Linked DNA regions of Homo sapiens. The protein of the gene in region 3 interacts with the protein of the main gene of each other region in a pairwise test. Each region holds a gene or a part of one and is shown on either strand. Other genes may lie near its edges. The genes, in order: EGFL6, GABBR2 and SH3GL3.

Region 1 (2,894 bases), on a different chromosome or scaffold from region 3:
TGGAGCACCTATCCAGTAACATTCACTCTAAAGAGAAGTATGTCTCCCATGCCTCCCATAAAGAGCAGACTAGGCCTAGAGGGTTTCTACAATCTTCAATATCCGAAATAAGCAGATTTAGAGGACAACAAAATGATCCTGATTCAAAGATGACAAAAGTTACCCTGGAACAAACATAGAGGGAAAAGAATATTTCATTTGGAACATGGTATTCTTTAAAATAACATGCACATATAGCCTATCAAAATGAAATTCAACAATAGCCTACGCATACTGCAGTTACAGATAAATAAAAATATACATTCATGTGCAAAGTAAAATGTGAAATATAAAAGCACTCATGTTACTGTAGTATGATTATGAATCTTTTCTTATTTTCAAAAAAGTAATTTCCTTTTGTCATTTCTAAACTTTTTAAGCTCAAACTTATATAAATTCAAACTTGTATAAATTGGCATTTTAAAGAAAGACCCTTTAAGAATCATGCTCACAACAATGCCATCATGCAATTATTCACTATCCCCAGCACCATCTCTTTTTTGCTTAATAAAGAATCACAGAATAGTCTTCAGAAATGAAGCAACTTTAGGCTTGCTGTCATCACCATATCCAGTTTTCTCTGGCTCTCCAAAGAAGAGAAACCTCAGGGAACAAATGGAGATGACAAGGGTCTATGACTGCTCAGTACCTGGGCTGCTCTCTTTTGCTCTCAATCTGAGTGCATTTTCTTGAGAACTATTGGAAACAAGTTATTACTAAGCAGCCAGTGATAGCACAACTGGGTATAGAAGTTTCTTTTTCCTCTAGTCTCAGGAGGGAACTGCTTTCAGAAAGATGTTCCTTTTGCACCCAAAGGAACTTTTTTTAAAAAGTAGGGGTGAGCCAAACAGCAGACCCCTCACAGCAGCTGCAATGGGTGGGATAATGAGGGTGGCTATGTCTACATCTTGGCATATGGTGGCTTTTCCAACACTAAGACCCCTGACTGATAACCACTGGATAACTAGAAATAAATGTCCGGATAATTAATTGACATACTAATTTTGTGTTTTTCACTATATTTTTACCTCCTCTATCCCCCCCAAAATTAGGCAGGATTTTAATGTTCTTTTTTATCAAGGAGATTTGGGATATAACAATCAAAAGCAGACTTTTCTGGAAGATGGTCCCTTTCCTGACGTTTGTTACCCACAAGCTTAACTTTCTGAGACTGTGGCTGAAGGTAGAAGGTTAAAAGGAGAAGTGGTGAGGGGAGCCATGAGATTCTCCAGGACTAGGATGCTGTACCACTGCATCTCCCTGGCAGAGCCCTGGGCAGAAAATGGTTGCCTGATGTTCCTATTGAGGCTAGATTCTCAGCAACAAGATTCCAACCCCAGTAAAGGTTTCTGTGTCTGGGCCTGGCATGGAAGTTGAAGAGATGAGTGACTTCAAGGGCCACGTAGGTGCAGAAGATATGGGTATCCATGGCCCCCATGATGAAGTAAAGATGTGTTGCCCCCTTCTTAATGTCTGGACCATTTTTAGCCTTTCAAAAGCACAGGCTACCCTAGGGAGGGGGCCCCTATCCCAACCCTGAATGAGGAAATAGCCAAGATTAAATTTCCCCCCCAGCCTAATGGGATGGGGCTTTGGATTCAGAAATAGTTTGATTTCGAGAAAGCAATGTGACTTACATTGTATGCCCAAGTTTATGCAGCAAGAGTCACATATGTTACAAATGTCCACAGCCAATATGACATTGCTAAACTGGAATATATTCTTTAGACTGGATTAGTCAGCTTCCTTACCCTTCAATATCCCCCCATCAAGATTTCCCCTAGAACTGAAGAATTCAAGGAACAGATGCCTGGGTCTGAGAATGCCTCTTATGAAAGCACTGCTGTGTTCCAGTGTGATTGCTGGCCAGGCTCTTTGGGGGCATGTCTACAGAAATGTGCATTTAAAAAAAAAATCACTGTTTTGCTAGTATACCCTCCCTGCAAGCTACCATGTTATATTAAAAATATTCTCCATCACATGAATTCAGTCAACATGAAAGTGATTATGAATGCTGTGCAGAGGCATGTTTCAATTCTCCAGCAGGGGATATCATCCATATATAGCATGGCTCAGTGCCACAGTCCCCAAACCATGCTGCAAACACAACAAGAAAATACGTGGATTGGATTTGTATTGATTTAAATGTACTGCTATAAGAATAAACTCAAATTAATGCATGTGTCATTCCTAAACAAGCACTGGCTGCTTTTACCTCAGAGGGGAAGAGTGGTTAGGAAATTCATTAACTGGTACCCAACATATACTTTTATTTATAGTCATGTCTCATGACATATTTTAAACAAGATGTTCTGCTTTAATTAAACTATGACATGTAAATGAAAAGATGTTAAATTTGCATTAGTCATCTTTCACAAGCAAAGTATAAATGGAATCCCAATACATGGATCTACTAATTGCTCTTCCTATTATCACCACTTAATGTACCTTTTTCTAGCTTTCACCCTTTTTCCTTCCCACCTTGACCAAACTTTTCATTTGTTTGTTTTTTCGGGGTTTTTTTTGAGATAGAGTTTCACTCTTGTTGCCCAGGCTTGAGTGCAATGGCACGATCTCGGCTCACTGCAACCTCCGCCTCCCGGGTTAAAGCAATTCTCCTGACTCGGCCTTCTGAGTAGCTGGGATTACAGGCTTGCACACCTGGCTAATTTTGTATTTTTAGTAGAGATGGGGTTTCTCCATGTTGGTCAGGCTGGTCTTGAACTCCCAACCTCAGGTGATCTGCCTGTCTCGGCCTCCCAAAGTGTTGGGATTACAGGCGTGAGTCACCTCGTCTGGCCTACCTTGACCAAACTCTTTATAACGTCCACAGTGGCTGCCTTAAGGCTCTGATC
Region 2 (3,657 bases), on a different chromosome or scaffold from region 3:
CAGGGGGAGGTTGTGCAGATCAAACAAGATAATACATGGAAAGTTTAGCCCAGTGTCTGAAACATAATAAGGGCAACTTGCTACTATAATAATATTACTATTATTACAGGGTCTCACTCTGTCACCCAGATTAGAGTGCAGTGGTGCAATTATAGCTTACTGCAACCTTGATCTCCTAGGCTCAAGCAATCCTCCTGTCTCACCCTCCTGAGTAGCTGGGACTACACGTGCATGCTACCATGTCTGGCTAATTTTTTTTTTTTTTGGTAGAGATGGGGTCTCTCTATGTTCCTCAGGCTGGTCTTGAACTCCTGAGCTCAAGCAATCCTCCCACTTTGGCCTCCCAAAGTGCTGGGTTTACAGGCATGAACTACTGTGCCTGGCCTTATAATTACTATTACTGATACTTAATAGGACCCACAGTGGAGGACAGACATGCAGGGCTCGCGAGCTCTGAGCCTCACACTATCATGGAGACTCTGACCTGCAGGGTCTCACTCAGAGGAGTTAATCAGGATGGGTCCCAGTCATCCCCACGTTTTTATTTTTAGAGACAAGTCTTCTCTATGTTGCCCAGGCCGGTCTTGAACTCCTGGGCTCGAGCGATCCTCCCACTTTGTCCTCCCAAAGCGTTGGGATTACAGGTGTGAGCCACAGCACCTGGCCCATTCCCAGGTTATACAAAAATCAGGTGCAAGTCCTGGGGGCAATTCAGCCCCAGAGAAGCCTGGGCAATATGAGTGTTGGTAGTTGTTGGGGGTGGTAGTCGGGATGGGTGTTGAACATCTGTGATATTACCATATCTGTATAATAGAATGGCTTTCATCCATGATTCCTGGCTGCTATATCTCTTGTAAGAGTCTTTTGTTATAATGTTGGGGCATTTTAGGCCTCAGGAGCGGGCCTCATGAAACAGAATCACTCTCTCTGACCTTCTCCTGTCCTTTCTCACCTGCTCAAGGCAGGACTGTAATCTGATGTAGGTCAAAAGACCTTTATCACAGAGAGAAAGTCTTGCCCCATACCCTGGAGGAAGGAATGCTACAGAGAGGCCAAGAAAATTCTGAGCAGAAAGGCCTTGCTGGGTTTAGATCATGCATTTTTGTCCAATCACATTTCTACACAGTTGTCAGTCATGCCTCGTGTAATGAAGCCTCCATAAAAACTCAAAAGAACAGGGTATGAAGATCTTCTGGGTAGCTGAACACGTGAAGGTTCCTGGAGCATGGGGCCCAGGGAGGCAGGGAAGCTCCACACCCCTTCACCCGTCCTCGCTCTGTGCATCTCTTCATTCATGTCCTTGGTAATAAGCTGGTAAATGTGTTTCCCTGGGTTCCGTGAGCCCCTCTAGCAAATTAATTCAACCCAAAGCAGGATCCTGGGAGTCCCAACTTGAAGCTGGCTGGTCAGAAGTTCCAGAGGCCTGACTTATGACTGGTATCTGAGGGTAGGGTGGGGGTCAGGGGGAGCCTTGGGGACTGAGCCCTCAACCTGTGGGATCTGAAGCTATCTCTAGATATGTAGCATTGGATTTGAACTGGAGGCACCCAGCGGGTGCCTGCTGCTCGTTGGTGGGGAAAACCCCACACACATTTGGTCACAGAAGTCTTCTGCGTTGACTGTTGTGTTGGTGCAAGAGCACAGGAAAAACATGGTTAGAGGATTTTTCCAAACAGCATCCTGCTGTAGTATAAGGGAGGAGACCTGATAAACTATCAGAGGCTGTTCTGATGTCAGGAACACAGCCATGAAATTGTTTAACACGTTTTCATGTGGAGGAGGAGGGAAAGAGATACTCTTTTCTATGTGACTTAAATGGCAGGAGTAGGATCAAAGGGTGGGGACAACAGGAGGCCAGATTGTGATTCATTTCCGGGAAAAATAACACAACATTTAAGAGTTTTAAATAGTGGCCTGGGTTTCCTAATGTGACTGAACTCTTCATTGCTGAAGTGTGCAAGTAGAAGTGAAATGCAGTGACATGGTCGTACTCATCAGGAGAGGTCTGATATTGAAACAGAGCCTGTAATGGGCTTTGGGGGACAGAAACCCTTCTTAGTTTGCTCTGGCAGCTGATGGTGGGTTACCTCATCCTAAAGCAGTCATCTTTAGGTGCACAGACAACTGTATGGTGGCTCTCTGTGGCAGAATTCTGTGAGCCCCCCAAAGGGCGGCCAGATCTAGCAAATAAAAATCCAGAATGTCCAGTCAAATTTGAGTTTCAGATAATGGGTTCTTTTTTAGTATAAGTATATTCAAGTATTACTTGGGCTAAACTTTTACTGAAAATATGATTGGTTGTTGATCTGAAGTCTGAATTTAACTGGGCATCCCATATCTAATCTGGCAACCCTATGTCTCACTTCTTCCTTGCAGCTGTCCAGCTAGAGACGACGTTTCCCAGCCTCTCCTCTCACTAGGTGTGCTCATGTCAGTTTTTGTTGATGTGACTAGGGCAGAACCAAAATATGCACAATTTTTGGTGTTACTGCTTAAAAGGCAATCCCTCATGTGGACTTTCTATCTCTTCCCCTCCTGACACTGTGAACAGGACATGCTGTCCACCCAGCTCTCCCGCTATGAATGAAGAGAACACCCTGGAGAGTGGGGAAAACCAGAGGGCAGGAACCAAGCCCAGCAATGACCTTGGGGAGCAGAGCTGCCCCAACCGGGCCCTCTCTTTTCACGGCCATTAGGTAAAAGGGAAATAAACATATTTTCTCTGGGCCACTTTATTTTGGGGCCTTGTTTAGCCAGCATTGTAACCAATGTACTTTCCTTGGTCCCTTTCCTGTCCCCCTCCCTAATCAGAATTCCTCTATTAAAGCAACACACAGCCTGCAGAGCACGGGTTCAGGCATACCTCCAACCCAAAGGGAGGGGTAGAGGAGGGGAGGTAATTTGTTTTCCCTTCCCTGGTCTACAAGCCAAGCCTGGCTTGGGCACAAGGCAATCTGGCTATGGTCTCTCTGGAATATTCAAGAACCAGTTGAGAACCCTCAGGACAAAGGCGAGGTCTGCTGCAGCACTCTCTCTTGAAAAGTTTCTTTTCACTTTCTCTTCTCTTGTACATCACATAGATGTGGTGGTTGCTGGGTTGTGCTGGGAGAGTGAAAAACTGAGAGGGAGAGAGACACAGATAAAGAGACACTGACGTAGGAAGCTATGATAATCCAGAAGCTCACAAATCTCCCTGAGTTCCTTTCTGTCTGGGGATGGCTTGAATCAGGTGTTGCTGGCCTCCAAGAGCCTGGGTGAGGTGGGCAATAAGCTCATGTTGGATTCTGACAAATGCCTCTGTGTGGTTTATGTCACCCCTGGCTCTCGCAGCTGCAACTGCAGCTGATGAGACTGCACGGTCATGCTGCAGGGATGGTCTAGAGGAGCCTGAGAGTCCCCGCACAGGGTTAGAGGGGCTTCAGTGGCAGACAGGGCCCAGCTACCAGATGCAGAGGGAGGTACCTCTGTGATCTTCATTCGCAGGCGATGGTTTTCTGACTGTAGGCCCTCCAGGCGGGATGTGCTGGCTTGGTTCACACTGGTGACCGAGGTGGACGTTTTAGAATCTTCTTTCTTCTGATTCTGAGTGAACTGGAATCGCCTGTTCTGCGTTGCTGCATCTGGGTTTGTTCTCAGGGTGATGAGCTGAAAGGACAA
Region 3 (3,657 bases):
AAGAGAAAGCAGGAAAGATCCAAAATTGACACCCTAACATCACAATTAAAAGAACTAGAAAAGCAAGAGCAAACACATTCAAAAGCTAGCAGAAGGCAAGAAATAACTAAAATCAGAGCAGAACTGAAGGAAATAGAGACACAAAAAACCCTTCAAAAAATCAATGAATCCAGGAGCTGGTTTTTTGAAAGGATCAACAAAATTGATAGACCGCTAGCAAGACTAATAAAGAAAAAAAGAGAGAAGAATCAAATAGACACAATAAAAAATGATAAAGGGGATATCACCACCGATCCCACAGAAATACAAACTACCATCAGAGAATACTACAAACACCTCTACGCAAATAAATCAGAAAATCTAGAAGAAATGGATACATTCCTCGACACATACACTCTCCCAAGACTAAACCAGGAAGAAGTTGAATCTCTGAATAGACCAATAACAGGCTCTGAAATTGTGGCAATAATCAGTAGTTTACCAACCAAAAAGAGTCCAGGACCAGATGGATTCACAGCCGAATTCTACCAGAGGTACAAGGAGGAACTGGTACCATTCCTTCTGAAACTATTCCAATCAATAGAAAAAGAGGGAATCCTCCCTAACTCATTTTATGAGGCCAGCATCATTCTGATACCAAAGCCGGGCAGAGACACAACCAAAAAAGAGAATTTTAGACCAATATCCTTGATGAACATTGATGCAAAAATCCTCAATAAAATACTGGCAAACCGAATCCAGCAGCACATCAAAAAGCTTATCCACCATGATCAAGTGGGCTTCATCCCTGGGATGCAAGGCTGGTTCAATATACGCAAATCAATAAATGTAATCCAGCATATAAACAGAGCCAAAGACAAAAACCACATGATTATCTCAATAGATGCAGAAAAAGCCTTTGACAAAATTCAACAACCTTCATGCTAAAAACTCTCAATAAATTAGGTATTGATGGGACGTATTTCAAAATAATAAGAGCTATCTATGACAAACCCACAGCCAATATCATACTGAATGGGCAAAAACTGGAAGCATTCCCTTTGAAAACTGGCAAAAGACAGGGATGCCCTCTCTCACCGCTCCTATTCAACATAGTGTTGGAAGTTCTGGCCAGGGCAATCAGGCAGGAGAAGGAAATAAAGGGTATTCAATTAGGAAAAGAGGAAGTCAAATTGTCCCTGTTTGCAAACGACATGATTGTTTATCTAGAAAACCCCATCGTCTCAGCCCAAAATCTCCTTAAGCTGATAAGCAACTTCAGCAAAGTCTCAGGATACAAAATCAATGTACAAAAATCACAAGCATTCTTATACACCAACAACAGACAAACAGAGAGCCAAATCATGAGTGAACTCCCATTCACAATTGCTTCAAAGAGAATAAAATACCTAGGAATCCAACTTACAAGGGATGTGAAGGACCTCTTCAAGGAGAACTACAAACCACTGCTCAAGGAAATAAAAGAGGACACAAACAAATGGAAGAACATTCCATGCTCATGGGTAGCAAGAATCAATATCGTGAAAATGGCCATACTGCCCAAGGTAATTTACAGATTCAATGCCATCCCCATCAAGCTACCAATGACTTTCTTCACAGAATTGGAAAAAACTACTTTAAAGTTCATATGGAACCAAAAAAGAGCCCGCATCGCCAAGTCAATCCTAAGCCAAAAGAACAAAGCTGGAGGCATCACACTACCTGACTTCAAACTATACTACAAGGCTACAGTAACCAAAACAGCATGGTACTGGTACCAAAACAGAGATATAGATCAATGGAACAGAACAGAGCCCTCAGAAATAATGCCGCATATCTACAACTATCTGATCTTTGACAAACCTGAGAAAAACAAGCAATGGGGAAAGGATTCCCTATTTAATAAATGGTGCTGGGAAAACTGGCTAGCCATATGTAGAAAGCTGAAACTGGATCCCTTCCTTACACCTTATACAAAAATCAATTCAAGATGGATTAAAGATTTAAACGTTAGACCTAAAACCATAAAAACCCTAGAAGAAAATCTAGGCATTACCATTCAGGACATAGGCGTGGGCAAGGACTTCATGTCCAAAACACCAAAAGCAATGGCAACAAAAGCCAAAATTGACAAATGGGATCTAATTAAACTCAAGAGCTTCTGCACAGCAAAAGAAACTACCATCAGAGTGAACAGGCAACCTACAACATGGGAGAAAATTTTCGCAACCTACTCATCTGACAAAGGGCTAATATCCAGAATCTACAATGAACTCAAACAAATTTACAAGAAAAAAACAAAGAACCCCATCAAAAAGTGGGCGAAGGACATGAACAGACACTTCTCAAAAGAAGACATTTATGCAGCCAAAAAACACATGAAGAAATGCTCACCATCACTGGCCATCAGAGAAATGCAAATCAAAACCACTATGAGATATCATCTCACACCAGTTAGAATGGCAATCATTAAAAAGTCAGGAAACAACAGGTGCTGGAGAGGATGTGGAGAAATAGGAACACTTTTACACTGTTGGTGGGACTGTAAACTAGTTCAACCATTGTGGAAGTCAGTGTGGCGATTCCTCAGGGATCTAGAACTAGAAATACCATTTGACCCAGCCATCCCATTACTGGGTATATACCCAAAGGACTATAAATCATGCTGCTATAAAGACACATGCACACGTATGTTTATTGCGGCACTATTCACAATAGCAAAGACTTGGAACCAACCCAAATGTCCAACAATGATAGACTGGATTAAGAAAATGTGGCACATATACACCATGGAATACTATGCAGCCATAAAAAATGATGAGTTCATGTCCTTTGTAGGGACATGGATGAAATTGGAAATCATCATTCTCAGTAAACTATCGCAAGAACAAAAAACCAAACACCGCATATTCTCACTCATAGGTGGGAATTGAACAATGAGATCACATGGACACAGGAAGGGGAATAACACACTCTGGAGACTGTGGTGGGGTCGGGGGAGGGGGGAGGGATAGCATTGGGAGATATACCTAATGCTAGATGACACTTTAGTGGGTGCAGCGCACCAGCATGGCACATGTATACATATGTAACTAACCTGCACAATGTGCACATGTACCCTAAAACTTAGAGTATAATAGAAAAAAAAAAATTAAAAAAAAAAAAGAAAATCTATAACCTTAAAAAAAAAAAAAAAGAAAAATATCCCATTTTAATAAAGGATAATGCATATTAGAAAAAAAAAAAAAAAGAAAAATTTGGGTTCTAGTCTCAAACGCTGAAACTTAGAATTAATTAAATTTTTTTGTTAACTTATATTCTTCTCATTTTAGCATATTTCTTCCTCTTTCCTGTTGGTCTCCATGTGCTGCCAAAATGATGCATAATCCCCAGGGTTTACGAGTCTTCATTCTCTGTAAAGTAGGGGTTTTTTCCCAGAGATAGGGAAGGTATCAGGAAAAAAGGAACAGTTAACCGGGTTATAGCTAATTTTACCTCGCTTATCTTTCAGAAAACTATCTCAGTTTGCCATGGTCCTGGATCCCTTCTCTGTAAAAGGTCCACTTTATCATCTTTGTCTTACTCTGAAATGCTTAACTTACTTAAGAATTTCAGCACTGAGATGTATACATACACACACACCCAGAGACACAGAGACATATTCGTATCACTTTATTG

Evidence for each region.
Region 1: the proteins of SH3GL3 (region 3) and EGFL6 interact in a two-hybrid assay, tested with the Homo sapiens proteins (one large-scale study listed by BioGRID and IntAct).
Region 2: the proteins of SH3GL3 (region 3) and GABBR2 interact in a two-hybrid assay, tested with the Homo sapiens proteins (one large-scale study listed by BioGRID and IntAct).

What each region holds. Positions count from the first base shown.
Region 1 is NC_000023.11:13,628,478-13,631,371, reverse strand, and holds part of EGFL6 (epidermal growth factor-like protein 6 isoform 1 precursor), read right to left. Parts: intron 1-2,894.
Region 2 is NC_000009.12:98,299,779-98,303,435, forward strand, and holds part of GABBR2 (gamma-aminobutyric acid type B receptor subunit 2 precursor), read right to left. Parts: intron 3,646-3,657; coding exon 3,463-3,645; intron 1-3,462. UniProt on the Homo sapiens protein: Component of a heterodimeric G-protein coupled receptor for GABA, formed by GABBR1 and GABBR2. Within the heterodimeric GABA receptor, only GABBR1 seems to bind agonists, while GABBR2 mediates coupling to G proteins.
Region 3 is NC_000015.10:83,450,278-83,453,934, reverse strand, and holds part of SH3GL3 (endophilin-A3), read right to left. Parts: intron 1-3,657. UniProt on the Homo sapiens protein: Implicated in endocytosis. May recruit other proteins to membranes with high curvature.